Regions from separate parts of the Homo sapiens genome. Here region 2 is linked to region 1. Evidence: fine-mapped expression QTL. A gene starts in region 1. The other region holds a variant in brackets. All regions are shown on one strand. Distances are between the middles of the regions. Region 1 holds the start of CHURC1 (churchill domain containing 1). Region 2 overlaps CHURC1-FNTB (CHURC1-FNTB readthrough).

Region 1 (17,559 bases):
CCATGAGGAATTGGTGAGGTTAGAAACAGGAAATGTGGGATGACAGCAGGAAGGGAGGTAGGGAGCAGCAGGACACGGGGCTACAGAAGTAGACTGGGCCAACTTTTAAAAAGTCGTGGGTGCTGTAGGAAGGAATTTGGTCTTTATCCTGAGGGCAATAGGGAATCATGGAGCTTTTAAAGCAGTGACATACTGAGATTTATGATAATTGTTACGTTCTTGGCGCTGTCTACTGTAGTTGCTTAATAATATACCTCAGTTCTCTCAAACCTTGCTATGCACTTTCTTATTAGTTCTTTTTTTTTTGAGACGGAGCCTCGCTGTCTCGCCCAGGCTGGAGCAATGGCACAATGTCGGCTCACTGCAACTTCCACCTACCAGGTTCAAGTGATTCTCCTGCCTCAGCCTCCTGAGTAGCTGGGATTACAGGCACACGCCACCATGCCCTGCTAATTTTTTGTATTTTTAGTAGAGATAGGGTTTCACCATATTGGCCAGGCTGGTCTCGATCTCCTGACCTCAAGTGATCTGTTAGCCTTGGCCTCTCAAAGCGCTGGGATTACAGGCATGAGCCACCACTCCCAGCCCTCTCATTAGTTCTCAAAGAGGATATTGTAAAGAGAAAAAAGTACAAAGAACTAGAAGGGTTGGGAATCTGTGATTAGGTAGAAACCAAAGTAGCACTTACAAGGAAGGCTCCCTTTCTCTTTGTGCCTTGAGGTAACTTTCCAAATCCACTTCCTGGAGGAGCCTGGCCTTTCTCCTTCTCCATCTCCCGTGGTTTCCCTCCCTAACACGACCCTTTTACCACGGCATCCTCTCCAACACAACATGCTCACTCAGTTTTTCCAGTTACACACAAATCACCTTGTACAAATTTGTTAAAGTACACAGTCTCATATTATCCACTTCAGCAGACACACATTCACACATCGGGCAGTTTGAGTTATTGCCAGTCCTCTTCCTTAATTTATTATCCTCCCTTCTACCACCTCAGGCTTAAGGCCAGAGTTACTTTTCTTAAAACCCTTAAGTCATATGTAGAAACACATATACCGAAAACATTTGTGTATCATTTTATAAAGCAAGCCAATGAGGTAGGTATATTTATTATTGTCATTATTTTACAGATGAGAAAATTGAAGACCAGCCAATAAGCAACTTGTTTAGGGTCCTTGAATTATTAAGTTACAATGAGGACTAAAATCTAATGTTTTAACTGTAAATCACCATGTTATTTTCCAAATATTCCTTGCAGCTTCTATATACCCCTTCTCTATTCCAAGTCAAAACTACTCTTTTCAACACTACCCAAGTTTTTTGATTTCTATGGATTTTGTGCCTGGGTTACCTTGAAGTAAACCCTCCATCTGCTAGCCATTCTCCAGGACAAAACAGAAGTCTCTTGACTTCCCTTTCCTCACTTCCCCGGTTTCTCTAAAAATTCCAAACTCCTTTACCTCTCAGAGTCCATATAGGTGAAAGAGAATAAAAGTCTGCTCTAAGTCTTACTATGTCCTTGAGGCACACATTGCGGGGGAAAAAACCCACAATAAAATATCTGAAACCCAATTGCATTTTGATTATTAAATTCCTTCTGGCTAGTTGTGGTGACTCATGCCTGTAATCCCAACACTGTGGGAGGCTGAGGCAGGAGGGTTGCTTGAGCCCAGGAGTTCGAGACCAGCCTGGACAACACAGTGAGACTCATCTCTATATACATACATACATACATAAAATATTAAAAAATCCACCCCAATCCATGCAAGATTTGAGAGAGAATATTTCCCCAGAAGCTACCATTTAAGAGATTTCGACATACCTGGTGAAAACTTTATATGGAAATGATAATCTGTATTTGAAAAAAAGTGAGGAGAGCAAAAAAAACAGAATCAGAGGGAAATAATGGCTATTCCCTTGCTTTTAAGTGTTATATGTTTGAAAAAATGGATATGTTATTTGTAAATTTATGTTTAGTAACTAGCGGTAAACTTGAAATACTAGAATACATTATAAGTCTTAATCCTAGGTAGTCTTAAGAAAATGAATCTCTTTTAACTATCATCTTTTGAACCTATATTCACATTGGTTTTTAAGATTTTTATTTATTTATTTATTTATTTATTTTGAGACCGAAGTCTCGCACTGTCGCCCAGGCTGGAGTGCAGTGGCGTGATCTCCGCTCACTCCAGGGTCGGCCTCCCGGGTTCACGCCATTCTCCTGCCTCAGCCTCTTGAGTAGCTGGGACTACAGGCGCTCGCCACCACGCCCGGCTAAGTTTTTTTTTTTTTTTTTTTTTTAGTAGAGATGGGGTTTCACCGTGTTAGCCAGGATGGTCTCAATCTCATGACCTCGTGATCCACCCACCTTGGCGCTTCCCAAAGTGCTGGGATTACAGGCGTGAGCCACTGCACCCTGCTGGTTTTTAAGATATTTTAAGTTACATTTTTTCCTCTTTGTTTTTCAGAGCTACTTCTTATTTGGGGGCTACTTTTTAATACTGAGGTGTAATTCACAAGGGGCTGCATTTTTTGATAAGGCTTCTTATAAATATTGCTGAATGTTTTGCTCTAATCTTCTAAGCAGGGCCATTTTATTTTTTGGAGTCACTTCTAAAGTCATGTGTTCATTAACTTTGGAGACTGCTTTGGATATGAGTGCTGATACAAATTAAAACCCAAGTAGACCTCATTGTTTGTCACTCTACGAATGTTGACAACGGAAGGAACACCTTGCCCATAGTATACTGACTTCTGGACTGAAAAGCAAACGAAACAATTCCATTTTCTTTTTTGCATACATCAGAAAAACAACTACTGTGTCCAGTTCCCTGATTGACCTCAGCAGATGAAGTGAACAGATAGTGTTAATTCAGATTGGAGAAATTATATGAATCTTGGTGTGTGTAGATTTATAATCTACAGGCAATATTACCTAAATCAGATATTTACAGTTTCACATGTGTATATAGGCTCCTTCACACCCATTTCCATATCCATTGGTAACTGAACTTTCTAAATTGGCATTGAAGCATTACAATTTTTTTTTGCACCAATTTTATAAACTTAAGCAGTGCAATGCCTGTTTTTTTTCTAAGACAAACCAAAGGTAATTTTCTCAAGTTTCTGCTGCCTTCTTTAGCAGAATTTGATGGAGGGTCTTTTATACATTTGTAATAGATAAAAAATAAACCAGACTGCAAATCATTTTTAAAATCCTAAACCACGTACCAAGTTTCTTATTCAAATTGTACAGGGTAAGTTTAAACTTAAATTGCATTCTATTAGCCAATATGACTGTACTTCTGTAAGCATAGTTATGTTGAAATAAAGTTTTAAAAAGCAAAAAATAAATAAATGTGCTTGAAAGGCTTGAGTTTATCATCTGAATAGGGGAAGTAGCCTGAAGTTGGGCAGGAGAACCCTAAAGGGAAGAAAGTCTAACTCTCCCATTGAGCTAAGAAAAAAACCTGCTGACCCTGAACTTCTAGGAGTGCTTTTGTACCTGTCCTCAGCCAGGCTCACCTGTATTCACTGGGTTAACCCAGAAATGCTGCTAATTCATTCATATCAGGCAGGTGACATCAGGTGATGACAACCACAGACTCTTATTTCACACTTTCCCTGAAACAATGGAAAGAATGACCTATACCTTCACCAAGCAGATGAGCTTCCTCTACTCCATCTGTGAAATGGGTCTGAGGATACTACCATAAAGGCTGGGGCACTTATTTGCTCCTTTCAACAAAAGATGAAAATAATAGATATGATCAGCATTGTGTCATCACTTCAGACTCTTGGCTTAAGACAGCATAAGACAAAAGAAAAAATAGAAAGAAGGTGTTAAAAGGAGAGTCAAACTGCACTCTTTAGGGAAAATTTTCATCTTACCACAGGGATGTAGTTTAGCACATGTAACTGAGCCAGCAATTAGGGCCATTTTAACATTTAGATTTTCTTTAATCAATTCCTTTTACAAGAGGTGATCTCATACGTAAACTGCAACATGGTTTGTTTGATATATCTCATGGACATCACATATTTATTAGAGACCCATAGGGGCAGGGTATTTCCCCAGAGAAAATTCTATTAGAAGATAAAATTGATTTTGCAAATTTTATTTTATATAGTTACCTATAAGAGAAAATATTTTTCTGTTTATTGTTTTTCTTATGTTACATCACTACTTGTTCATTTCATTCAGGTGCTAATCTTCTGCTTTGTAGCCTCTATTTTCCTTTCTCCCATCTGTCAACCTCAGATACTTTTATATTCCCATTACCACAGTCACACTTTAATTTCTGGTCCTGGCTACCTCTTCCCCCAAGTCTCATTTCCTGCCTCTCTTCTCTGAATGTGGCTAGATTTAAATGGAGGACTTCATTGGATAGATAGCCCTGAGCTCTTGAGCTTTTGTGACCATAAATATGACAACTTTTTTTTTTTTTTTTTGAGATGGAGTCTAGCTCTGTCGCCCAGGCTGGAGTGCAATGGCACGATCTCGGCTCACTGCAACCTCTGACTCCCAGGTTCAAGCGTTGCTCCTGCCTCAGCCTCCTGAGTAGCTGGGATTACAGGCATGCGCCACCATGCCCAGCTAATTTTTGTATTTTTAGTGGAGACAGGGTTTCACCATGTTAGCCAGGAGGGTCTCGATCTCCTGACATCATGATCCACCCGCCTCAGCCTCCCAAAGTGCTGGGATTACAAGCATGAGCCACCATACCCGGCCGACCTTTTTTTTTTTTTATCTTGCTCATTTTAATAACAAGTTATGATATAACTCTGGGAAGGTAAAAAAATTTCATAAATATGTAGATTGTCTTTCATGCCTTAGAATATGAAATCAATTCATGCTAATGGGTGTACTCTTTAAGATCTATGACTTTAGTGTAATTTTTAATTAATTTATTTTTGTTGTGTATATTCTCAGTGATGAGGCAGAAAGCTATACATCTCCCCCTTGTGGTTCCTGCTAACGTCTGCCTTTGGCATGTCCATTTTTTTCCCAGTTCCAGTAAGTCCCAATAAAATGCAGCTAAAATAATCTTTTTTATTTATTTATTTTTTAGGGACAGAGTCTCACTCTGTTGCCCAGGCGGGGGTGCAAGCAGCATGATCATAGCTCATTACAGCCTCAAACTCCTAGGCTCAAGAGATCTTCCCATCTCAGCCTCCTGAGTAGCTAGGACTGCAGGTGCACACCACCACACTAGGCTAATTTAAAAATTTTTTGAGGTCATCACTATGTTGCCCAAGCTGGTCTTGAACTCCTGGCTTCAAGCTACCCTCCTGCCTTGGCGTCCCAAAAGTGCTGGGATTACAGGTGTGAGCCACCACACCCAGCCTAAAATAATTTTAAACCACAACTCTGGCAACACTCTCCTGCTCAAACCTTCAGTTGCTCCCTACCACATGCAGAATAAAATCCAAACTCCTTGGCATGGTTCACCTGAAATTTCTATACAAAACAAAACAAAACTCTGCTTTTTGAAATTCTAAACATGCTTTAAGGCCCAAATTCCTCTTTCCTAATCCTCCCCCTGGGTGTAGTCTCATCATTTTGTGTTCTTATACCCCAATCTGCCAGTAATTATTAGTATTTGTGCTCATTTTATCTCTCAGACTAAATTGTAGCTGGGGAGTAGCAAAGGATTAAAAGTCAGTATTAGGCTTTAAAAACAGAGAAACCATTTAAAAATGGATGAAGAGAAAGAATTGGGCCAGGTGCAGTGGCTCACACCTGTAATCCCAGCACTTTGGAAGGCCGAGGCAGGTGGATCACTTGAGACCAGGAGTTCGAGACCACCCTGGCCAACATGGTGAAACCTCATCTCTACTAAAACTACAAAAAATTAGCCGGTTGTGGTGGTGTGCCCCGGTAGTCCCAGCTACTTGGGAGGCTGAGGCATGAGAATCGCTTGAACCTGGGAGGCAGAGGTTGCAGTGAGCCGAGACTATGCCAGTGCACTCCAGCCGAGGTGACACAGTGAGACTGCCTTAAAAGAGAGAGAGAGAAGAAAAAAAGACTAGCCCTGTCCAATAGGAATATGAGAGCTACATGTGTAATTTTTAATTTTCTAGTAGTCACATTAAAAAAGCAGGTGAAATTAATTTAATAATACATTTTTATTTAACCCAGTACGTCAAAAATTATTTCAACGTAATCATATAAATTTATTAATGAGATTCTTATATATTTTAATACTAAATCTTCCAAATCTGGTGTGCAGAATGTACTCACAGCACAATCTCAGTTCAACTTGCCATATTTAAAGTGCTTTATAGCCATAAGTGGCTAGTGCTACTGTATTAGAAAGAAATTGAGATAAGGATAGCAACAGAGTCCTAGCCCTGGCTGACTACTGAGTAGCTTTGTTACCATAGACAAGACCTTTAACCACTCACTTCTGTGGTTTCCTTATCTGAAAAGAGGAGACATATTTTTCTTACCAACCACATAGGATTGTAATAGCATAAAATTAGAAACTGAAATGAGGACACTTTTGAAAGGTTGAAAATGTCATACAAATGGGAGGTATTATAATTATTCTAAGAATAAGGTAAACTCTGATGGCTCTAGTTCTTGCAGTGTTTCTTAGCACACCTATGATTTTTAATAACAGTTGCAGATACTTACTAGAAGTTGAAATACTAAAGGTTACAACTTCAGTGCTTCCGTGGAAAAATAATTCCCATATTAGCAAACCCATTTAAACTGGTGTGCTTTGAAATGGTTATTAATCTCTTCTTTAAGGAATCTGGATCCCAGAGTCTCCCAGGCTCCCCAATCTTTCTTCCCTGACATGACAGCAATAAAGCAGGGCTGAGGGAGGATGTTGATGTTCCCATTGGGGTAGAGGAGTGTGATAAAGACGCATTGTTCAGAAACAGAGACAAACTTCGGAGATTCGTCTGCAAGTTAATTAGGTCGTTGCGAATAAATAAGATGCTTTCAATACAGAGAGAAAGGATGAGGCGGGGCAACAAGCACAAGCATTTTGAGACCCACAGGATTGGGAAATGATGCAGGAACAACTGACCTGGCCATTTTTCTTTCTTTCTTTCTTTTCTTGGAAGCACATATGTTTATTGGTTTTTTAATCTGTGAACCAATAGGTCATTTATAAATGGATGTGCAAATCTGAAATCAAAATATCTGCAGTCAATTCAATTAGATAATTTTTGAAATCTATTTATTTTTAATATACTTTAAGTTCTAGGGTACATGTGCACAACGTGCAGATTTGTTACCTATGTATAGATATGCCATGTTGGTGTGCTGCACACATTAACTCGTCATTTACATTAAGTATATCTCCTAATGCTATCCCTCCCCCCTCCCCCCACCCCACGACAGGCCCCGGTGTGTGGTGTTCCCCACCCTGTGTCCAAGTGTTCTCATTGTTCAATTCCCACCTATGAGTGAGAACATGCGGTGTTTGGTTTTCTGTCCTTGCGATAGTTTGCTCAGAATGACGGTTTCCAGCTTCATCCGTGTCCCTACAAAGGACATGAACTCATCCTTTTTTATGGCTGCATAGTATTCCATGGTATATATGTGCCACATTTTCTTAATCCAGTCTATCATTGATGGACATTTGCATTGGTTCCAAGTCTTTGGTATTCTGAATAGTGCCACAATAAACATACATGTGCATGTGTCTTTATAGCAGCATGATTTATAATCCTTTGGGTATATACCCAGTAATGGGATGGCTGATGACCTGGCCATTTTTCTATTTACATAGTGCTTGCCCGCCACTGAGGTGCTTCTGTGACACCTGAGAGAGATAGAAATACGTTCCTCGTTGCTATGTCCTCCAGAGGACTCTGGAATGACCAATTATTACTAATATTTTAAGTGTTTTTTTAGGAGATTTTCTGCAGCACTCTGAGTGTCTCTTCCCAAACACTTCGGTTACTGTTTATTCACCTGCTGAGATCTGGTCTCTTATTCACTCTCATTGCCTTAAGAAATGGTACAGAAATGTATTCATTAACATTTCAGATTTGTATATGCGGTAGCGAGAAATAATTCCCTTTCTTGTGTGTCGTGATTTGCCTTTCTTGTCAGCCTAAGCTCAGGAAGGTGTCTGTGAGAACTTCGCTCAGCCCAAGATCCCTTTCCCTTCCCGTCACATCTGTTAGCGCACAAGATTTCTTCGTCTGTCTCCAAAGGTTTCTGAAGCCCCACCCTTTGCCCACGCACGGTGCCAAGGAGACTGTGCCCTGCCTTGACAACAGTTGCTAAGGGGCGGAGACTTCGGCTCGGTTCCCGAGACGGAATACCCAGGAGTCGAGTACTTGGGCGCATGCGGCAACCGTATCTCAGTTCTCGCGAGGTTTCGTCTTCCCGGAAGCGTTGGAGGACATTCCCTGTTGACTGCGTCGCGATGTGTGGCGACTGTGTGGAGAAGGAATATCCCAACCGGGTGAGCGACTGGGCGCTCCCTTGGCCCGCGGGCGGCCCCCGAGGTGTCTCATATCCAAGGCTGGCCTTCCCAGAGAGGCCGTACGTGGGGCGGACTCGGCCGCACTGCCGGTCCCGGTGACCCAGTAGCGGTATTTAGGCACACCAGGGATGGCCTGTGGCGGTCTGCACCTCTGGTACCCGCCCTGGCGGCTGACCTCAGTTGTAGTGGCCGTTCTCTTGAGCTCCAAGGAGCAACAGAGGAACCCCACCACCACCACAACCCCCGTCGACAACCGAGGGACTCCCCCACCCCCACTTCCGGTCTCATCCTCAAGCTCGATTTGATGAAGTACAATTTTCTTACCGAATTCTAGCGCTGGAGGGGACCTCTGTGGTCATCTGTTCTAACACTTTTGCAGATGAAGAAACCGATGCCCAGAGAGGGGAAATCACTTGCCCAAGTTCACATTCTAGTTGCATGGATGAGAGCCAGGACTAGAATTTAGGTTTCCTGCCTGTTACCGCCTTCTGAATCTCAGTTACTTTCAGGTTCAGGAGTTTGCAAAGCTTGTCTATTCTCATTCATTCAAGGCATCCTTGTTGAACATTTATATATGTGTAGTTAGATTACTTTGCTAGGCCAGAAAGGGATTATTTCTCCTCTCTTTGAGACAGGGTGCTGCTGTTGCCCAGGCTGGTCTCAAATTCCTGGGATCAAGTGATCCTCCCGCCTTGGCCTCCGAAAGTGCTGGGATTACTGGCATGAGCCACCACGTCCAGCTGGATTATTTGTTTCAGAGAAGAAATTAAAAGGCACCTTTGGTGCTGCCTAACAGCTTACAGTTTTGGGGAGTATGTGACTAACAAAAAATGAGTAGCTCAGTTCAGAAATGCTATTCAAGTTTAGGGAAAGGGGAGGGCAATAGGGGATAGTGCTGTTCTCCCCTGAGAAAAGGTGGACATCATCTAAGACTTGAAGGACAGTTGTAATTAGGGTAGAAAAGAAGGTGAGGAGCTGGAGGATGGGGGAAAATTACAGAAATGGAATTTGTGCATTGGTTGGGAAGGAGGGAGAAAGTCTCTGTAGTTCCTTATGTCTTAGTATCTTATGGGTAATACTTAGGCTTTTGAGTAGCATGTATAACAGTATGAATTCTCCTGTAGTACAACTACTTTGAAAAAGCGGGTGAGCCTTATAAAATACAGACATGACCCAGTGATTCCCATTCTAGAAAAATGCATGTGTATATGCTTCTGAAGACTTTTATAAATAAGTGTTCATAACAGCATTATTTTTGTAGTAGATTGGAAAAGTAACTGATACATTCATTAGAATGGAACACCATTAATGAATGAGGAATGGAAGTGAATGAATTAGAGCAGTAGTTCTCTACCAGGAGTGATTTTTGGCTCTTAGGAGACATTTGGCAATATCCAGAGACATTTTTTGGGTGTCAAAAGGGGAAGTACTACTGACTGCTAATGGGTGATGCAAGGGATGCCGCTAAACATCCAGCAATACATGGGACAGCCACCACAACAAAGTATCACTCCCAATGTCAATAGTGTGGAGGTAGAGAAACCCTGAATTATAGCCGTGAAACCAAACTAGAATTACACAGCAGCCTGAAAAGTCTTACAAATAGTGTTGATGAAAGAACACATAAAGTATAATTCAAAAAGAGGCAAACCAAAATATATTATTCAAGGATGTACCTGGGTGGTAAAACTGTAAGGAACGTATACAATTACTGTTAAGTCGAGATAGTGGTTACTCCTAAGGGATTAGGGTGTGATCAAGAAGGGTCACATGAGAAAAAGTCTTCCCGGGTGCAAGCAGTGTTTTATTTCTTGATTTGGGTGGTGGTTCTACAGATGTACACTTTATAATCATTTCTTGTTCGCTACATTTATGTTTCATGTACTTTACTATGTACTATTTCATTTTTTTAAAGTTTAAAAAGATTTTTATGAAACCAGTAATAAACATGAGCTATTATGAGACCATGAGGGAGGAGTTTGCAGTAGAGAATATTAAAGAGATTAGGTTGGATTCTTTTTTGTTGTTGTTTTTGTTTTTGAGATGGAGTCTTGCTCTGTCGCCCAGGTTGGAGTGCAGTGGCATGATCTCGGCTCACTGCAAGCTCCGCCTCACTGGTTCATGCCATTCTCCTGCCTCAGCCTCCCGAGTAGCTCGGACTGCAGGTGCCCACCACCATGCCCAGCTAATTTTTTTGTATTTTTAGTAGAGACAGGGTTTCGCCTTGTTAGCCAGGATGGTCTCGATCTCCTGACCTCGTGATCCACCTGCCTCGGCCTCCCAAAGTGCTAGGATTACAGGCGTGAGCCACCGCGCCGGGCCTTAGGTTGGATTCTTAAGAGTGGAGTTATTGTAAAACTTAAAAGTCATATTGAGAAGTTTAGAGTTTACATTTTAGGCATTGGGCCACCATCAAAATTTTAATAGAGAAATGATTCTGAAATCTGTTATTTAGGAAAATGAATCTTATGGCTGAATGTTGAAATGGTGGGGTAGAGGGTGTGTAAAGACAGAACTCCACAGGGCATTTGAGGAGCCATGGCAACAGTGGTGTAGGCATGAGATAATGAAGACCTTATTTCAAAGAAAGAATTAGGTTGGGCACGGTTCTCACACCTGTAATCCCAGCACTTTGGGAGGCCAAGGCAGGTGGATCACTTGAGCCCAGGAGTTTGAGACCAGTCTCAAACATGGCAAAACCCTGTCTCTACAAAAAATACAAATAGTCTGGGCACGGTGGCTCACGCCTATAATCCCAGCACTTTGGGAGGCCAAGGCTGGCAGATCACCTGAGGTCAGGAGTTCGAGACCAGCTTGGCCAACATGGCGAAACCCCGTCTCTACTAAAAATACAAAAATTAGCTGGGTGTGGTGGGAGGCGCCTGTAATCCCAGCTACTTGGGAGGCTGAGGCGGTAGAATCGCTTGAACCTGGGAGGCAGAGGTTGCAGTGAGCCGAGATCACACCACTGCTCTCCACCATGGGTGACAAGAGCAAAACTCCGTCTCAAAACAAATAAACAAACAAAAAAAAACCACCACAAATATTAGCCAAGCGTGGTGGCATGCACCTGTAGTCCTAGCTACTTGGAGGTTGAGGTGGGAGGTTGCAGTGAGCCATGATCGTGCCATTGCACTCCAGCCTGGGCAACAGAGCGAGACCCTGTTGAAAAAAAAAAGAATTAACAAGATTCAACCTGTTTAATGTAGAAGTGAATAAGGGGAGACCTATACATGATCACATGATCTCAGGATTTTCAATCTAGGCAACTGGGATGTTGGAAGTATCATTACAGAAATTGGAGGCATATGGGAAGAAAAAACAAAATTGGGGACAAATGGTCAAATTGTTATTAATATCATGCTTCACCTGAGGTTGAGAATATCCGAAGGGTCAAGTGAAGATATAAGACTGCAGTTTGGGTACAACTATGTAGATAGATGAGTCAGTCAAATACAAGTGTCAAAATAGGATTTGTTCTCTGAGGAAAAAAATGTAGAGAATCAAGGACTGAGCTCCAAAGACTAAATTAACTTCAGAAATGAAAATAAAGTATAAGGAAGAATAGTAGAAAAAGGGATCGAGGTGATTGGAAAACCAGGAGAGTGCCTTTCAAAGGCACTTTTCTCTGATTTTATTCTGTTCTAAAATAATTAAAAGACTGTCATGAAGAAGAATTAAACTTTTCTTTGGAATTTTAGAAGGCAGATTTAGAAATAATTAGTGGGTGGATGTTACGGGTCTTAGACTTTGAATCAGAATAAAGAACATTCTGACATTTCAAAATGGAATGAGTAACTCTTAAAGGAATTAAGCTCTCTTCCTATTGTTCAGTAGAGACTAACTGACCATTTGGAATGTCAAGGATCCTTCCAACTCTGGGGTTCTTTGAAGTCATGACCTATTTTTAAGTGCAGTAAGAGCAGAAGCCCACTGCTTTGCTCAGCTTTGCAGAAGCTTAGCAAAGGGAAGGGTAATAAGAAGATGGTGGGCCGGGCCTAGTGGCTCACACGTGTAATCCTAACACTTTGGGAAGCCGAGGCACAAGGATGGCTTGAACCCAGGAGTTTGAGACCAGCCTGGGCTACATAGTGAGACCCCATCCTTATTAAAAATTAAAAAACATTAGCCAGGCGTGGTGGTGTGTGCCTATAGTTCCACCTACTTGGGAAGAGGCTAAGGCAGGAGGATTCCCTCAACCCAGGAGTTCGAGGCTCCAGTGAGCTAAGATCACACCACTGCACTCCAGCCTGAGCAACAGAGCAAAACCCTGTCTACTTAAAAAAACAAACAAACAAAAAATCATTTGTTGGGAAGCTCTAAGTGTAGAATGAGTAAGTAATAGTTAATTATTTATCTTCGATTACATAAAGTTGTTTGGAGTTTTGTCATTTATTTTTACAGACTAGAAATATATAGTACTGAATTCTTAATGGGGCTCTGGCCTACTTGCTTATACTGTTAACACTGAGAATTTGAATTCAAACATGAGTCAAGTTGGAATGAACCATACTAATTTTCTGAACCCAAATGTTTTTTAACTCAATGGTGAACCACATTTTTTTTTTCCTTCAGAAAAGCATTTAGCAAACCAGTCAGAACTAGAACTCTACTACATTTTCTAAAATTACTGAACAGGCACAAAATTGTAATCAAATATTTTTCATATCAAACTGGAAATGAAACATTTCATATATTTTAATTTCAGCTTGAAATTTTGTTAGTAATGCAACAGGAATACAGAAATACATTATGAATCAGTGGGAAAAAATCAATGTTAGTGATATGTTTAAAATTACTTGTTTTGTATTTGTCATTTAAAGCTAAGCTACCAAACTTCATATATTCAAGTTGTTGCTTAGTAGATAACATTGAACCAGATTTAATTAAATGCTGAGTAATATATAATTAGCAAAACAGTTGTATGTAAGAGTGCCTTAAAATGATACTCTGCATCTTAAAATTTATAGTTATAAGTGCCTATATTTAAAAAGTATACTTTTCAATCAATTACCTAACCTTCCACTTAAGACAATGGAAAAATGGGCCAGGTATGGTGGCTCACGCCTGTAATCCCAGGACCTTCGGAGGCCGAGGCTAGCAGATCACTGGAGGTCAGGAGTTTGAGACCAGCCTGGCCAACATGGTGAAACCCTGTTTCTACCAAACAATGCAAAAATTAGCCTGGCATGGTTTTGTGTGCCTGTAGTCCCACCTACTTGGGAGGCTGAAGTGAGACAATCACTTGAACCCAGGAGGCGGAGGTTGCAGTGAGCCAAGATTGCGCCACAGCATTCCAGCCTGGGTGACAGAGTGAGACCATGTCTCAAAAAGAAAAAAAAAGAAAAAGACAATGGAAAAAAAAGAGCAAACTAAACCCAGAGCAAGCAGAAGGAAGGAAATAATAAGGATCAGAGTAGAAAATACTGAGAGAATACAGTAGAGAAAATCAATGAAACAAAAAATTGGTTCTTTAAGAAAAACCGTATTTTCCATTTTTAAACATTCCCTGGCAAAATATATACATTAGCTATTAACTTGTATCATCTGAAATAATTTGCTGGAAAAAAAATTGATCCAGTCTTTATCAGAATAATTACAGCTTTCTCGTAAGATTTTATAACATACTCTCATATTAATTATTCTTACAGTTTTCAGCCATTTCTTCTTGCACACTTGTATACCTTTACAAATCCTTAACCAGGATTTATCTGAATCAGATTTTCTAAGGGTACTAAACATGTCGACTTTTTTCCTTCTTTAAGCTGTTATGGTCTACTGTTATTATTGTGGAATTGATTTGAATTGCATTCTTTTCCACCTATTATGGGAGCCTGAAAACCTTCCCTGAATAATGTGTGCTTTAGTTTACTTTCCCAAATTTGGATGTTAATAGTCTTGCCTCATCTAATAAAAGAACTGTGCCTCACTGATGAAGGTTACTCTTGCTGCTTTCAAATGACCAGGGCTCTTAAAGAAAGTCCCATCCGCTTCTTATATACTGTACTTGTATTTTGCCATTTGAAGCATTTACTTACCAGACAACAGATACATAGATACTTCTCTTCCTTCAGTGTTTTCTTAGACTCACATTCAGCCTACTTTCATGGTCAGATTACAGAGGCTAGGCCACGTTGTGCAAGGAACCTGTGTCTGTGGATGCAGTCCAGTTCAGAGTTATATTTATTTGAAATTGGCATTTAGATCTTTTTAAAAACTGTTTTGTTTTCCTTAATTTTTTGGAGTCCTTGGCAGTCAGATTTTATAGATTCCAGGCAGTCCCAATTCAAACTCCAGTAGACTTTTTTGTAAAGTGTGTAAGCTCATGTTAAAATTTACATGAAACTGAAAAGAACCAAGAATAGCCAGATTATAGGACATAAACTACCTGATTTAAAGACTAACTATAAAAACTATAGTAATCAAGAGAGTTTGATATTAGTGGGAAGGTAGATATATGTATCAAGGGAACAGAATAGTCAAAGCAGACCCACATATATATGGTCATTGACTTTTTTCTACAAAAGCACCATTGTAATTCAGTGGGGGGAAAGACAGTTCTTCAACAAATCTTGCCAAAACAACTGGAAATCCATACGCAACTAAATAAACCTTGATCCTTACCTCATATATAAAATTATTTCAAAATGGATTATAAACCTAAATCTACAAACTAAAAGCTATAAAACTTCTAGAAAAAAATGTAAGAAACTTTGTGCAACCCTGGGGTAGGCAGAGATGTCTTAGGAGAAAAAAAGTATAAATTATAAAAGAAAAAATGTTAAATTGGACTTTATGAAAATCAAAACTTGTTTGCTCATTAGAAGAAACCATCAAAAAAGGCAAATCAATGACGGAGAAAATATATTTGGGAAAAAACTTGTATCTAAGATATATAAAGAACTCTTACAACTCAAAATAAACAACCTAACTTTTTGAAAATGGGCAAAAGACTTGAATGGACATTTCATAAAAGAAGATACATGAATAAGCACCATGAAAAGATGCTCAACATCATTAGTCATCAAGGAAACAAAAGTTAAAACTACAATGAGATACCACTTTACGTCACTGAATGGCAAAAATAAAAAGCAGTACCTAGTATTGATGTAGCTATAGAGCAACTGGAACTCACACATTGCTGGCAGGAATGTAAATTGGAAAACCATTTGGCAGTTTCTTGTAAAGTTAAATATACCATATTTTTACCATATTAGCAATTCCACTTCTACATATTTACCCAAGGGAAAGGAAGACATGTATCCATCCAAGACTTGCACATGAATCTCTATAGCTGCTTTATTCATAATAGCCCCAAATGGAAACAACCCAAATATCTACCAACAGCTGAATCCTACAGGGAATACTATTTGGCAATGAAAAGCAACAAACTACCAGTACCTAGAACAACAGTGATGATGAACATAGGCATTATATCGAGCAAGGAAAATTGGATGCGGGAGTATACTGATTCTGTTTATATAAAATTCTAGAACGTGCAAGACTGGAGATGGAAATCAGATCAGTGGGTGTCTGGGGTGGGATGGAGGTTAGAGATAGACTGAAAAGCATGAAGGAACTTTTTGGGGTGGATAGAAATGTTTTATACCTTCACTAGGGTAGTGGTTACATGGGTATATACATTGGTTAAAAGTCATTCACCTATGTATACCCTTACAGTGTGTGAATTTTATTGTATGTAAATTGTACCTCAGTAGATTTTATTAAAAAAAAAATCAAAGGCTGGGCACAGTGGCTCATTCCTGTAATCCCAGCACTTTGGGAGGCCGAGACGGGCAGATCACGAGGTCAGGAGATCGAGACCATCCTGGCTAGCATAGTGAAACCCCATCTCTACTAAAAATACGAAAAATTAGCAGGGCGTGGTGGCGGGCACCTGTAGTCCCAGCTACTTGGGAAGCTGAAGCAGGAGAATGGCATGAACCTGGGAGGTGGAGCTTGCAGTGAGCCGAGAGTGTGCCACTGCACTTCAGCCTGGGTGACAGAGCGAGACTCCGTCTCAAAAAAAAAAAAAAAAAAAAAAAATCAAAGCAAAGCATTTGTTCTTAATAACTGGAAATGTATACTTTAATCCTAAGGCCCTTTTCCCTTTTAGTAGTTAAGGCAGTACACCTATGATTTAATAACTATGTAGTAATGTCTTGATTTCTCCCACTAGAATTAATGTCTTCCTCAATACATAGAAGGGAGAGATTCCTCAATATATAGAAGGGAGAGATTAATTCTCCCACCAGAATTAATCTCTTCCTCAATACATAGAAGGGAGAGATTAATTCTGGTGCTTGGAATCCAGAAAGACTTCCTAGTGGCATTATTTATGGTGGATCTTAATTTCGCTGATGCTTCTTAAAACTCCTTGAAGGTAGCAACATGTTTGGCTCATCTTTGAATCCTCTGTTGTGCTTTGCACAATATCAGACACAGATGCACTGGAGAAACGTTGATTTGAGTGATTTTTAATCACATTATTTAAAAATACTCTTTAAGTGTGTTGCTGAGAAATGGGATTGGACTAGATTATTTATAAAGTGACTTTTAATTATTAATTATTAGCCTTTAGCAAAGACTTCCTTTGGGTCGGGGACGGTGGCTCACAACTGTAATCCCAATACTTGGGAGGCTGAGGTGGGAAGATCATTTGAGCCCAGGAGTTTGAGACCAGCCTGGGCAACATAGCAAGACCCCATCTCAATTACCAAAAAAAAAAAAAAGGCTTCCTTTGAGCCAGGAGCATAAGTTATTTAGAATTTCTTTTTTAAAAACTTTTTTTGAAAATTTGTATAGTTTCTTAGTAAAGATGTAAAACCCATTCTCTCTTAAATGCCATTGTGTCAGTCTTACGAAATGAAGAACTTAAGCTTCTCTGCCTCAATCATGTGTATCCTTAAGGACTGACATCTATAGAGCTGAGAGTTTACTTTTGTTTATTTTGTATTATGATCAAGGATCAAAACTATTTGAACAAACAACTAAACATCTATGTAAGATCATCTTTATCATTGACTCAGTTTCTATTTTGATTGAATTTAATTTTAGTTGGTAAGCCTCGTTTAATATTGTTGGTTATTAAATTTTTCTAATT
Region 2 (14,715 bases), 19 kb after region 1:
GTCAACTGCCACCATACTTGCCCAGCATGGAAACTGTGATAAGGAGGTTTTCTTTGTTTTCCCAAGTTGACATGTAGAGTTGAACAACTCTGCAGTCTCATTTGTGGTAAGACATTATAGTATTGTTAAGTAAAATTACAAGCTGTGTGTACCATGGTTGGAGGAGAAACACAGAACCACTGTGAAGCTGGAGATTAAGAGATTTATCATAAGGATTAATCCTTACACAATTGTGAGAGTATGTGAAGAATTCTCTGGAAGGTTGATATAGGCCTGTAGTTGCTGAAGATACACAGGTCTGACGGTCAGAAAGAAAAGCTGGGCAGTCGGGGAGAGCCAGGGACAAACTGAAACCTATCTCTGTCCCTCACTGCCTGTTTTCAAGCCTTCAGGTTGAGTTACTTATTTTGTGTGAACTACATATTTGTCCATAGGATATAAATATCAGGCTAGAGCTTTTAACAGCCGAGAGAATTTTTTCAATTCCCTTCACATTTGGATAGTACTTAATTAGGAAAATAATAATAATCTTCCATAGCAGAATCATAAGATAGTAAAACCCCTCTTATTCCTTATTTTAGCATGGAAGAAAGTGCTTAGTCACCTGTCAGAGTCTGGTCTGATATGTTGTGGTTAATCTAAAATAACATCTTGACTATATTTTATATTTCTTCAGCATCCAAAAATTATGCCTCAAGAAATATTTATATGATATGCGTAACTTAGGGCAAAATTGACATCTTAGTGAATGAGTAGTGGCCGCATAGGGAGATGAGCATCTCCTGGGCTTAAAGAAACAGTCCTATTCTTTTATGGGAGGAAAGGAGTGCTTATAGCTATTTTCAAGACACTCCTGAATTTCACGTGAGTTATGTACAGCTCCTGAACGGATATTGAGGTTGCCTGTTTATGTCCTAACCAAGCCATTGTAAATTAGCTAGACCAAAGTCTAGCTGATTTTTCCTTTTTGACTGAATGCAGCCGTTTTCAAAGCTGCCCTGGAAATTACTCTGGGACAGGAAGAAGGTAAAGGAAGGTGGCTTGTAGTCACGATGCAAGAAACTATGAAATGGTGGTGAAAATGATTCTTAAACTAGACTCTCTACTCCCAGTCTACTTCTCCCCCCACCCCCCCCCCCGCCGTCAATTCATACTCCATACTCTACCATCATATTAATTTTCTTAAAATAATGTTTTCAAAGCTGGGCACAGTGGTGTGTGCCTATAGTTCGAGCTACTCAGGAGACTGAGGCAGGAGAATCTCTTGAGTCCAAGTGTTTGAGTACAGTCTGGGCAACATAGTGAGACCCTGTCTCTACTAAAAAGTAAAAATAAATACTTTTGGGTGACCTCATTGGCCTTCCCATAGTGCACCTTTAGCTACAGTACAATATCCAAGCTCCTCATTTCAAGGTTCTCACTGGACTGGCCCAGCTTCCCTTCTTTTATTTCCTGCTACTCTTTCATATGTACACCATACTTAGCATTGTCCCAACTTTACTCTTCCTTCTCTCCTGTTAGAGAGAAAGATTTTTATTTACCCCTCTCTAATGCTACCCCTACTGCATTTCCTCAGGAATCTCATGTTATCGTCTTTCTTTCCAGTGTACTTTGATTCATCCTGTAATCATTTCTTCTTCCTCTTGCTTCTTTAGTTGAACAGGTTGTTTGTTTGTTGCAACAAGGTCTTACTCTGCCGCCCAAGATGGAGTGCAGTGGCCTGATCACAGCTCCCTGCAGCCTTGACCTCCCGTGCTCAGGCGATCCTTCTGCCTCAACCCCTCGAGTAGCTGAGACTACAGGCACTAGCCTCTGTGCATGGCTATTTAAAAAATTTTTTTTGTAGAGATGAGATCTCACTTGGTTGCCCAGGCTGGTCTTGAACCCCTGGGCTCAAACAGTCCTCCTGCCTCAGCCTCCCAAAGTGCTGGGATTACAGGTGTGAGCCATTACCTGGCCACTTGAATGGGTCTTTACCCTATTTTCCTTATTTTCCTATACTCCTCTTAAGTACCTACAAAGTGATTTTCATTTTCTCTGTGCTAAAACTATTCTCTCATACGTTTCCTATAATCTAACCACATCCTGTGACTGCCTTAGTTCTTTTCTCTCTTACATGGCTTCTGCATCTAGTTTTATTAACTATTGTTGTCTTTTTGAAGCATTTCTGCCCTTGAGGTCCAAAGTGCTTGACTTCTTTCCTTTTTAAATCATTTTAACTGCTCCTTTGTGTTTTCTCTTAGTTTTCTTTCCTGTTTTCTCGAAGTGATACTCCTCAGCTTTTGTTCTGTGGTCTGGAACCTTCTTTATGCTCTCTCTTGTAGTGAACACACATGTACTCAGTCTCAGTAGAGACCTATTAGATACCTTTCTCATTTCCTTCTCTAGCCTTCGTGCCTACACCCCTCATCCCCTCTTTTTTTTCTTTGTTTTGCTTGCCTTTTCTCTGACTCTGGCACCACACCTCATGTCAAGGACCATAACCATTGAAGGCTGAATTACTGCAGCATTCCCCAGACTGCAGTTCTGCACACTGCCATCAAGTTAATCTTCTTAAACATGTCATCCTCCACTCCCCTGCTGACAAACCAAATGTAGCTTCCTTTCCCTTTTACTCCGTAAGCGATGCGCATGCTCTTTTCCATATTGCTGTCCATATTCATGCCTTTTCCTTGATTTGAATATTCCCTCTCTCTACCTTCAAGCCAACTAAATCTTACCTCTTTCTGCCTGAACTCAAATTCCATCTCCTCTTTGCTCTTCAAGCCTATGCATCTTCTCCCTTTTCTGAACTTTTCTTGTACCTATGTCAGGCCCTGACTCTAGTGAATAGCCACCTGGGAACTTCTACCTCAGCCTAATGGCCACAAGAACCCTCCATTCTCAGCTGCCATTACTTACTGTCCTTGTCCCCACCCTACCCCAGCCCCTCATCCTATCCTGGCAGTAGTTCAAGTTCAAGGTGGGATTCCCAGCCACCATTGTTGTTTTATATTAAACATCTTATAGGAGATTTAAACATAGTCCAAAGTAGGCAGAATAGTGTACTAATGTACACTACCCATCTTCAAGTTGCTTTATTTATATTTCACCATTCTCATATCCCCCCATAGGATTATTTCAAAGCAAATTCCAAACGTATCACTACCTCTTTAAATACTTCATTAGTCTCTCTGAAAGATAAGTATTCTGTTTTTAAAACAACCATAATGCCATTATTAAACAAAGTAGGATTTTCTGATGGCAAGACTAGGGAGAAAGTGGAGACAGAGGGACAGAGTTTACATGGAAAATACATGATAAATTATTATAGGTATCCTTTATTTAAAAAAAAAACCCTCCTAGCAAAAGCCCCCCCCCACACACACACCAAAATTGTGTGTTTACTTCAAGAAACAAGACAGAAACTATGAGACTGCTTTCTATTCCTCTGTGGGCCAGGGAAGGAGAAGACTTGGAGTCAGAATTAACAGGGACTAATAGAGGAAGAGAGTAAAGCTAATAGAGAAAAAAGTAAAGCCCTCAGAATAAAAAAAAAAAAAAGATCTGGTCTTACTCAGAGGTAATTCCGCCCACTCTGCTCTTCCCTCCAAATATTTTCCCCTAGGCCCTGCCCAGTTGGAGCCTTTGAGAGTCCCTGTGAATGACTGGGGGAATTATTTTCTGTACTTGGCTGGTTTTGATAAAAGGTGTCCTAATCTCATCATATTCCTGGCAGCACGAGGAGATCTGTTCCTGGCATCCCAAGTTAGAATTCTAGACATATTTTCCCACAGAAGCACTTCTATATATGGTTAGATTCTATGGTGCTTGAACAATATAAATTTAAAAGACTTGTGGATTTTCCTGGGAACCTAACCGCCATGTATGACATTACTTCTGTGGGAAATTGCTTTTGAATTCCAAATAATTGACTTGCAATGAAATTTGGGTTCCAGACTGCCTATAAAGATTACAGGTGTAATCAGTCTCACTGATTTAATAGTCTTGCCAGATTATATGTTAGGTTTTTTCCCCCTCCCAAGTTAGATTGCAGATTGTATAAAGTCAGACTTTGTTCTTTCATGTCTGCCAGCACATTGCAGAGCATGTAGGCACTCAGTATAAATTTGTCAATGGCTAGATTGGTTGAAAACTCAAGTATTTGTTTAGCCTCACACATTTTCTCTTTTTGACTCTTTACTTTTTTCCTTCTTCTTTTCCTGTAAAAGGTTGCCATCCAAATAGCAATGCCTGGTGGGTTGAAGCAGTGGAAGTATTTGAGAACAGTAAAAGACCTTGAAGAGGATGTATTTTTATTTTATTTTTAATTCATAAAGCCATCTTTCCACTGCCACAACTAAGCTCCCCTCCTGAACTCACCAGTAGAAGATGGAAAAGGCAGTTGCCTGCTTCTATTTCTTTGTACCACAGTCATTGTTTACCTCTGTGGCCCTCTCTAGTGACTGTCTAAACCTAAGAAACACAAACTGCCTTGACTGATCAATTTCCAGACAGCTAGCAAACTTAGCATCAGGTGTGGAAATTCTAGAAGACTTAACATAGATGTTTGTTTTTGTACAGAGAAAAAGGCTTTTAAATGAAAGGTTTCAAAGAAATATGTCTCTGTAGTTTATGACTGTTAAATATTCTAGAAAGGGAAAGCTATAAGAATAGGACTTTGGGCTGGATGCAGTGGCTCACACCTGTAATCCTGTCACTTTGGGAGGCCAAGGTGGGAGGATCACTTGAGCATAGGAGTTTGAGGCCACCCTGGGCAACATAGTGAGACCCCATCTCTACAAAAAATTTAAAAATTAGCCAGGCGTGATGCCGAGTGCTTGTAATCTCAATTACTTGGGGGTCTGAGGTGGGATGATCACTTGAGCACAGGAGGTCAAGGCTGCAGTGAACCATCATTGCACCACTGCACTCCAATCTGGGCAACACAGTGATACCGTGTCTAAAAAAAAAAAGAAAAAGGACCTTGCCCTAAGGGTTTTTGCCTAAAACAAAATCTCCTCTATTACCAATCTGGGCATTTATTAAGCCTGGGAAACAAACTTCTTAAATGGATCAAATTCCCAGACAACTAGCCATCTGAAAATGAGGCAGGACATACTAGTGAATTTAACATAATTGTTTATTTTCCTAGGGTAGATAAAAATAGCTTTTTCAGTTTGGGAATTTTCTCCTTTCAAAAAATTGTTTCTGTTGTGTATTAGTGTTAAATATGCTAGAAAGGAACAGCTGTAAGAATAGGAATTTGTCCATAGGGACCCACACTCAAATTGCTTCATTACTTTAAATAGCACTAAGCTAAATATATGTGCTTTCTGAGAAATAGCCATGTATTTCCAAGATGACATTTATGTATCAATTTATATAAACAACAGGCTCTGGAATATACAGAATAAGCCTAAGACATTGCTGATACATGTTGAAGAAATTGATCCAATGTACAGAAAGAATATTCATGACAATTTGTAGAGAACATCTTAACTAGAGTAAGTTATAAAGCATCTTTTTCCCTGTTCCTCTAGGTAATTATGCACTTTATCTTGTTCTAGGAGTATACCATGCTGTGTCTGTTATGCGGCAAAGCCGAAGATACTATCAGTATTCTCCCTGATGACCCCCGACAAATGACTCTCTTATTCTAAGGATCCTTCTACAGATCTGTTATAACTATATTGTGTTGGTTTACAATACAGCAAGCCTGATGGTTTGTCTTATTTCATTCATACTGAAAATTCTTTGCATATTTTTTTTCTGCTTAGACTTACTTATTCTTTGAGGAAAAAAGGTAATGTAGGAGCTCATTGTTCTCTAGAGCTGAGCTCTTCTGCTAAAGTTCAAAGTTCACATCAGTGTAGCCAGAGTGAAGCATCTTTGTTAGCAGTTATGTGGTCAGAAAACAACTAGAATGGGAGCACACCTGGTGCCCAGATTTTGGTTTCCAATAAAAGGAACCAGGACTCCTTAGAAAATGAACTGATTCTAGAACTGGGATATGAACTGTACAAGATGAGCCTAGAGTATCTTGTGCCACAGAAAAATGAAGTACTGAAATTAAAAAAAAAAAATCATAGTGATTGGGAGTATGTCAGCATGATCGAACTGAAGGATCTCTGAAAGGCCACAGCTGGAGCAATTTGAGTAACAAAATAAAGTAGTATTGGGTTATAACCCAAACTATATAATAAATATTTACAAGCCCAAACTAATATAAATGATTGAATGGGAACAAATCTCTTGTGCAGAAGAATTTCAAATAATTTATGTAGATACTCCCCACTTAGTGGGCTCTGCATAGTGACTTCCTTGCAGAGTATAATATGGAAAGGGGGGAAAAGAGTAACTTTACAGTGGAGAAATCTGACAGACACCAGCTCAGCCAGGTGATTGAGGTTAACATCATCCATGATAAGCCCTTTTGATAGCATGTATCCTTGATAGCATCACATCATACAGAATGTGATAAGAATGGCACTTTACCTCTGTGGTCCTCCTCCCCAGAACTCAGAACCCAAGTCTGATCAGGAGAAAAACATCACACAAATTCCAATTGAGAAGCATTCTTTAAAATACCTAACCAGTACTTCTCAAAACTATCAAGGCCATAAAAAACAAGGAAAATCTGAGACATGGTCACAGCCAAGAGGAGCCTGAGAAGACATGACTGCTAGATGTAATGTGGTATCCTACATGGAATTATATACCACGAAAAGAAAAAAAGGTCATTTGGTAGAAACTAGGGAAATCTGAATACAGTGTGGACTTCAGTTAATATAAATGAGAAAATGGTTTCATTGGCTTTAAAGGGATTTTAGAATATCTTACTTTGCATAGTTTCATGAGCACTGGCCAGGAGGTTATAAACTGGCATTTAGGCCTCTCTGCCATTTAGTAGCAGTATAGTCATTAAGCAAAGCATTACTCTGGACTTTATTGTCCTGTTTCTATCAAATTGGACTAACAAAAATTGATATAATACATTCATCACAGTATTGTTAGGAGATTTAAATGAATTAGTGAATGTAAGATACTTTAGAAAGCATGTAAAGTACTAGAAACAATGAGGTGGCTTCAATTAGTGCTCATTCTGAGACCTAAATTTAAAGGGTCAGGCATTAGAAACAAAAGTGTTTCTTCATATCTAGGAGATTTGGAAATTCTGAACTAAGGTCTTATAAGAACAAGAAATGAGCAAAGTGTTCATTGTAGATACTAGGGAAAAGCTTTGTTGAATAACAGTAATGATGATAATATCTGAGCTTTATTAAGTACTTACTACATGCTAAGAGCTTTTTAAGCACTTATTTAATCCTCATTAACAAATTCATAAGGTAGGTGCTATTGATAGTTTAGCCATAACCAGATATGGCTTGTTATTTGTAAGTTATCATGAAAAGGTTTATATTCACTATTCTTTATTTCAGTGTAGCACTTTTAGAGCCAAAAAAACTCAGGCACAAAGAAGTTAAATAACTTGCCGGGTGCGGTGGCTCACCCCTGTAATCCCAGCACTTTGGGAGGCCAAAGCAGGCGGATCACCTGAGGTCAGGAGTTTGAGACCAGCCGGGCCAACATGGTGCAACCTCGTCTTTACTAAAAATACAAAAACAAAAATTAGCCAGGGGTGGTGGTATGCACCTGCAGTCCCAGCAACATGGGAGGCTGAACAGGAGAATCGCTTGAACCCGCGACAGGGAGGTTGTGATGAGCCAAGGTCATGCCACTGCACTCCAGCCTGGGAGACAGAGCAAGACTCCATCTCAAAAACAAAAACAAAACAAAACAACAACAAAAAAAGAAGTTAAATAACTTGTTTAAGATCACACAGCTAGTGCAGTTACCCCCTCTCAGTAATTATGTTTGGCAAATATGAAATACAAGGATCTGGCAAGGTTAGGAAGAGGTTAAGAATATCAGTGACAGTACTCTGAGGCATCTGGGCATGTCAGATGAAGATTTATTATTCAGAAAAGTTAAGTCAGCTGTTGCAGGGATCAGTTGTTTTATTCCTGGAAAATGTTTTTCATTTTGCTGCAAATCTATATCTGACCTGCTGAGGAAATCGTTTGGTGAAATGAATCCAGAAAGCAGAGAAAATGCTTCATTACTTTAAATAGCAGCATTAAGCCCATTATAGCCTCTGAATTGTCCCTTCCTTGAGTTTGCTAATGCTTCCAACTTAGTCATTTGAAGCCCAAGAGTCTAATTTTATATGCCCTGCCAATGTCCTCATCTATTGCAGAATGTATAATTATCTATTTGTTTTGGACTATATGTTACAAAAATTTAAAACATAAGATCCTCTCTCTATATTTCATTATTGGTGAACCCACATTGTGCTGTGTTTTGTGATATTTTATCATTTTCTAGATTCTTATGTGGATCTAATAA[C/A]GACCACTTGAACCCAGTTTCACAGAATCCTTATTTTTCTGTTCAAATTAGGAATTAGGGACATGGATGAAATTGGAAATCTTCATTCTCAGTAAACTATCGCAAGGACAAAAAACCAAACACCACATGTTCTCACTCATAGATAGGAATTGAACAATGAGAACACATGGAGACAGGAAGGGGAACATCACACTCTAGGGACTGTTGTGGGGTGAGGGGAGGGGTGAGGGATAGCATTAGGAGATATACCTGATGCTAAATGACGAGTTAGTGGGTGCAGCACACCAGCATGGCACATGTATACGTATGTAACTAACCTGCACATCGTGCACATGTACCCTAAAACTTAAAGTATAATAATAATAAAATAAAAAAAAAGGAATTAGGCAAAACATGGCTCTTCTTTTTACTTTCCTTCCTGAGATATAAGAAGGAAGAGAAATCACCTGTGGGGATAATTGGAAACATGGGGATAATTGGAAACGTGGGCTTATCTTGGCACCTCCTTTTTCTCTAATCATTCTGTGATGTACAGGTCTGGCTAGTTAGGCTCCTGAAGTTAAAAGCTCAGCCACTATTTGTTGTTTTGTTTGATCTAGCTCTTTCTCACATGGTTTTAGGTTCTCCCAGTACTAATTTAATTGACATCAGATAGCTTGGGCACAACCAGATATGGCTTGTTATTTGTAAGTTACCATGAAGAGGTTTATGTTCACTGTCCTTTATTTCAGTGTATCAAAAGTCCTTTCGGTTTCATTCTTTCATGTTGTGAGCAGGGCTAGTTATTTGAGGCGCTCAATTTAAAAATGTATGTTTTTTTTTTACTGTAGTACAAGACTGTTGTAAGATACAGTATAGTTGGATAGAAAAGGAATTAAAAGATCTGGGTCTAGAATTAGCTTTGTCACCTGCTAATGATGGGACACTGAGCAAGTCACTTATCCTGTCTGTACCTCAGTGTCTTCAGTGGAAAACTAGAAACCATCATGCCTCCACAGAATTTTTAAATCTAATGATTTTTAAATCTAATGCTGTGTGCAGGCAGCTGTCAGTGGTCTTTATGAAGAAAAATCTGAGCTAGAAGAAAGCACTGTTGTGTTATGGTTAAGAGTAGAGGCTTTGGAGTCAGACTGACCTGGCTTTAACTTTCAGCTTTGCTGCTTCCTAAGCTGTGTGTCCTTGGCAAGTGTCTTGCCCAATTACCTTTTCTTTTAATAGAAATAACAATTTTTCATGGGATCTCTATGAGGGTTAAATAACCTAGTGTATATAAAGTACCTAGCCCAGTCTGTGCCCATAGTAAATATTAAATGAATGGTAGTTTGGATGATGGTTGTGATGGTGATTATAATAAAGTTCTAGAGTTTGACTCAGTGTTTTTGAGACAAGGTCTCATCCAGGCTGGAGTGCAGTGGTGCAATCATAGCTCACTGCAGCCTCGAACTCCCAGGCGCAAGCAATTCTCCCACCCTAGCTGCCTGAGTAGCTGAAACCATTACAGGTGTACATCACCATGCTCAGCCGATTTTTTTTTTTTTTTTTTAATTTTTTGTAGAGACGAGGTCTCACTGTGTAGCCCAGGCTACATAGTGAGCTCCTGGGCTCAGGCCATCTTCCCGCCTCAACTTCCCAAAGTGTTGGGATTATAGGCTTGAGCCACCATACTGGGCCTCAGTGTCTCATAAACTAAGGAGAGATAGCTATGGGAACATAGTCATGAAGATAATTATCGATTTCAGTGTCTTTACCCTGGCCTCCTAAAATCACTTGTTCCAAGCTCTGGTTTTTTTGTTTTGTTTTTTGTTTTTGTAAGAGCCCTCAGGTTAGTGATTCTCTCTGTCCCTCCTCTGAGTTGAATAGCATTATCTCAGCACTTCTGGGAGAGTTGTTAAGGAGACTTCCCCCTCCTTCTGGGTGCCCCTAGGGAAATCTGATTAAAAGATTTTTGTTTATCTAGAAAAGTGGGTGATATTTTAAAGCTTTGCCTTGTCTGTTTATGATCACAAGCTAATACTTCTGAGGATGATAAGGGGGACAAACAAGATGAAGAATAAAGGAAAGGAAACACTTTCTAATTTCTCTTCATTTTAACAACAGCACAACTAAATATTTGGTAAACCTAAACATCCTTTTAAAATAGAATCTTCCAGTCTTGCCTTCCCTGTTTCCTCCTGAGCTGAATAGATCAGGTTCTGTCTGAAGCAAATAGTGTTTCCCCTCCCAAGTGAAGAGCCTTCATTCTAGCTTTATGGCCTTCTCTTGACTTTCTGCAGAATAACTTATACTGTAATTCCCATTCCTTTGGGAATCCCTAAATAATTCTTTGAACTTGGGCCTCAAGGGAAAGACTGAACACATTGTACTGGTGTCTCAGGCTCTAAGTTGCCTGTGGCATGTTTCCAACACCCGAGATAGCTGGCTCTGTTACTGGATGTAACAACAGGCTATGGTACTGTCAAGGTGATGACTAGCATCCAAGAAGAATTCTCTATTTTGTCAGGAAAGCAATTTGTCTGCAGTTACTGCTCTAAAATCAGTACATGGTCCTGCCCCATAATAATTCATACCCCAGCTGTTGACTTTAAGAGCAGGAATCTGAAAGGCTTGAGGTTTCAAGAGTGAAGGTAAGGGTAGCCTTAAGTTAGCAGAAGGCCCTGCAGAAAGGTGTCAGGGGATTCCCACTGTAATACTCAGGTTACCCTTTTGAAATAAAGCACTGTTGTTGACAGGTTTAGTTGAAGGTCAGAAAGTGGGGATCCTAAACATCTATTCCACATTCACTCTCATATGATGCAAGTGCTTAGAAAATGGTTAGGGTAAGCAGAACAATTAAAGGAAAAACATTTTCCCTTCAGCATTGGGCTTCTCAAGCAGTGTGTCCAGTTTGGAAAACTGTCCCTTCAGGGTTTCAGTGAATAGAAGTGAAAATATTCCATCTAGTGGTCAAAGAAGGGAAGATGAAATGAGAAGTTTCCAGGATGAGGTCTGTGGGGCAAGGTGACAGGCAGTGGCCTCTCAGCAGGTATCTTTTCCAGAACATGATAGAACCTGACCTTGGCGGTGGTGATATGTTTTGATTATGTCTGCACTGGATGAGGAATTGGGGACACCATCCTTGCAAGGCCTCTGAGCAAAACTGTCCTCACAGTGAGGAATAATGATGTTGCAAATGGCAGATTATAAACAGCCTGACTCTGAAGGGAGGCTCTCTCCCATCCCCAACCCCTTCCTTCTTACAGAGGAAGAAATGAGTCCAGTCATTCCTGCCTCTATTTGTCTGGAGCCTGAATTTGTGAATATGTGATTTTGAGAAGAATGAGGGTGTAATGTGAACTTTATTTATTTATTTTGAGACGGAGTCTCACTCTGTCGCCCAGGCTGGAGTGTAGTGGCGCCGCCATCTTGGCTCACTGCAGCCTCCACCTCCCGGGTTCAAATGAGTCTCTCACCTCAGCCTCCTGAGTAGCTGGGATTACAGGCGTGCGCCACCACACCTGGCTAATTTTTTGTATTTTTAGTACAGACAGAGTTTCATCATGTTGGCCAGGCTGGTCTCGAACTCCTGACCTCAAGTGATCCGCCTGTCTCGGCCTCTCAAAGTGCTGGGATTATAGGTGTGAGCCACCACACCCGGGCCATGAACTTTAAAAAGGAGGGAGAATCAGTCTAGCAAAGGATCAAACACCCGAGATGTTTGATGATCAGGAAAAAGATAAAGTGCTGTTTGTGTTCTCAGTAACTACACCCTCTATGCCCTTGCTATTGGTAAACATTAACTAAGCTGACTGCCCAGGAATTTCCCAAGGCACAAGTCAGATCTAGTTGGCCCAGTACCCACAGTGCTATTGATGCTTCCTGACTGTAATCCTCCTAACAGCCTCCCAATATCCCCAACCAAAGGGCTCATTGTCTTTTCCTCCTCTACCTCCCATTATCACTTTCTCTTTTTCCCCAGTTCTGAAGAAGAGCTGTAAAGGAATAATATAATTCACATTTCCCGTAACTGCACCTGCCACTGCAGACCTTGGCCAGCGCTTGCTTTCCTGTCAGTAATTAGGGCATCCCTTGATCCGTCAGATCCTCCCCTCCCAAAGCTTTGTGTGCTAGCAGCTCCTCTATCCCACCTGCAGTTTGTAGCTTCCCTCCGCCCTCTGTCAAAGAACACACACACAGGCTGGCCGTTTCCACACCTGCCCTTTATTGGTCTCTTCTAGCAGAGTGGCTCCAGGCCCTTCACGCCTCTCAGACACCACCCATGAGGGTTTAGGAAGGTGCCATCATTCTGTGAAGGCCCAGAGCTTACCCAAGTCTTGGAGCCCAAGTTGAATCACCAACCAGAGGGTTGGGAGAGGAAAAGGAAACAGGCAGAGGGGAAAGGCAAGGCTCTGCAGTGAAGGGGACTGATATCAAGGGAATGCTGAGGTCCAGCAGTGTCTCCTGAAGGCATGCTGCATCCTAAGGCTCCTCAGGACTGGATGGAGTAGGAGATCTGTGTGTTGAGCAGTTCACATCTATATGGCAACTTTAAGGAGGCGCTTGATGTCAGGCTCAATGTTGATGGTTGGGAAGGTGCGGCTGTAGCGTCGGAAGGGCTCTCCCTCCGGCCCTATGAGGAACTTCTCAAAGTTCCAGGCCACATCTGAGCGGCGCACAGGGCTCCAAATGATGAGCTTGGGATCGGTCATGAGGGAAAATGGGTCATCATAAGGGTAGGGGAGCTTGTCCTTCAGGTAGGCGAAGACAGGATGCTCGTTCTGCCCATTCACCTCACATTTTTGGACAAGGGTGAAGGTGGGCTGGTATCCACCCCCAGGACGGACATACTTGAGACTGTTCAGGATCTCCTCATTCTGACAGTTCTCCTAGGGGAGGAAAAAGACAAAGTGCGTGGACAGTGGGTGGGGGAAGAGAAAGATCCACAACATGAAACTCTTTCACCCTCCTACACTCCCTCCCCAGGGTCATTCTTTTTCACTGTGAAAGAGAGAGAGACAAGACAGACGAGGTGTTGCTCACTGCAGCCTTGAACTTCTGGGCTCAAGCATTCCTCCTGCTTCAGCCTCTTTAGTAGCTGAGACTACAGACACAGGCCACCATGCCCGGCTAATTTTTTTTTTTTTTTGTAGAGATGGGGTCTCACTTTGTTGCCCATGCTTTGGCTGCTCTTCAAGATTTAGCACTTCTGAGCTGTTGCTTTTGTCTCCAGTCTACCCTGAGCAGTTCTTAAGGTGTTTGAAGCAGAAGAAAGAGAAAAGAGGCTTAGGTTATACTGCTTAGAACCTCCTCTTCAACTAACCTACCGACCCACCTACCCATAAATCCATACCTACACACACACCCCTTTCCTTTCCTCTGCCCTGGTTTTGCCTCGCCTGCTTTCAATTGCACGTGTGTTGAGTATAGCCTTTGCCTCTGCCTACTCAGCTCCTTGAACTGAGGGTGAAATTGAGACCCAGAGGAATGGGATTTACAGCTTCTTGCTTTCTTCTTGCCTTGTCCTAGAACTGAAGTACAAATGGGAAGAAGCTTTGATGAAGGAAGACCCCCATCCAAGAACATCTAGTTTTCAGGTGCCATAACAGCAGAGCAAGTTCAAGGCAACAATGAATGTGTACTCTAAATGGAACTACTTAGTAACCAACAGGCATGAAGTAAATAGGATACAGGATTTAGGGTTTGGCAATAGGCCAGGGGGAGGGGGAGTTGAGGAAATAAGTGCTTGATGGCTAAAGATTGTGAGTATGTAATTATCATTCTTTTCTTGAGTAGGCTGCTACCCAAAGACTGCTGCACCTCCTATCCACTCACTGCTCTCAGCTACGCATGCTTTGGCTCAAAACCTGGTCCCTGCCTTTCCCTCCCCACTGCCATCCCTGTCCTATTCCCTCTCAGCATCACCATTCATGACAATCCAAAAGGCCTATGGGAACCCTTCTTTTCCACCTCTACCTTTCCAATTTAACAGACAGATACCTTCCTCTGGGAGAAAGTTCCTGCTTCTGACCTGTGAGAACTAACTAGTTCAGTCAGTTCCAGGCCATCATGACATCATGAGCCCAGAGCTGATCTCTAGTGGACTTCTCTGTTTTTGTTTCTGTTTTTTTTCCTGAGACAGGGCCTCACTCTGTCACCTAGGCTGGGGTGCGGTGGCACAATCATAGCTCACTGCAGCCTCGACTTCCCAGGCTCAGGCGATCCTGCTACTTCAGCGTCCCAAGTAGCTGTGACTACAGGCACATGCCACCATGCCTGGCTAATTTTTGCAATTTTTTGTAGAAACAAGGTTTCACCATGTTGCTCAGGCTAATCTTGAACTCCTGAGCTCAA

What was found.
Region 2: its variant is fine-mapped to the expression of CHURC1 in whole blood (INTERVAL, PIP above 0.99).

Annotation. Positions count from the first base shown.
Region 1 is chr14:64,906,100-64,923,658 of GRCh38, forward strand. CHURC1 (churchill domain containing 1) reads left to right here and starts at 8,356. Exons shown (of 4, transcript NM_001386928.1): 1 at 8,356-8,435. The coding sequence starts at 8,397. CHURC1-FNTB (CHURC1-FNTB readthrough) reads left to right here and starts at 8,262. Exons shown (of 14, transcript NM_001202559.1): 1 at 8,262-8,435. The coding sequence starts at 8,316. It also overlaps the pseudogene RPPH1-2P. RefSeq lists enhancers at 8,156-8,205, 8,356-8,625.
Region 2 is chr14:64,926,589-64,941,303 of GRCh38, forward strand. All of the region lies in intron 3 of CHURC1-FNTB (CHURC1-FNTB readthrough), which reads left to right. CHURC1 (churchill domain containing 1) reads left to right here. Exons shown (of 4, transcript NM_001386928.1): 4 at 5,550-8,780. The coding sequence ends at 5,642. GPX2 (glutathione peroxidase 2) reads right to left here. Exons shown (of 2, transcript NM_002083.4): 2 at 12,570-13,250. The coding sequence ends at 12,900. Among named protein-coding and RNA genes, the nearest start is that of GPX2, 8.8 kb to the right of the region's middle. RefSeq lists a silencer at 1-90 and an enhancer at 2,417-2,486. The variant C/A (reference allele first, on the strand shown) is at 8,389.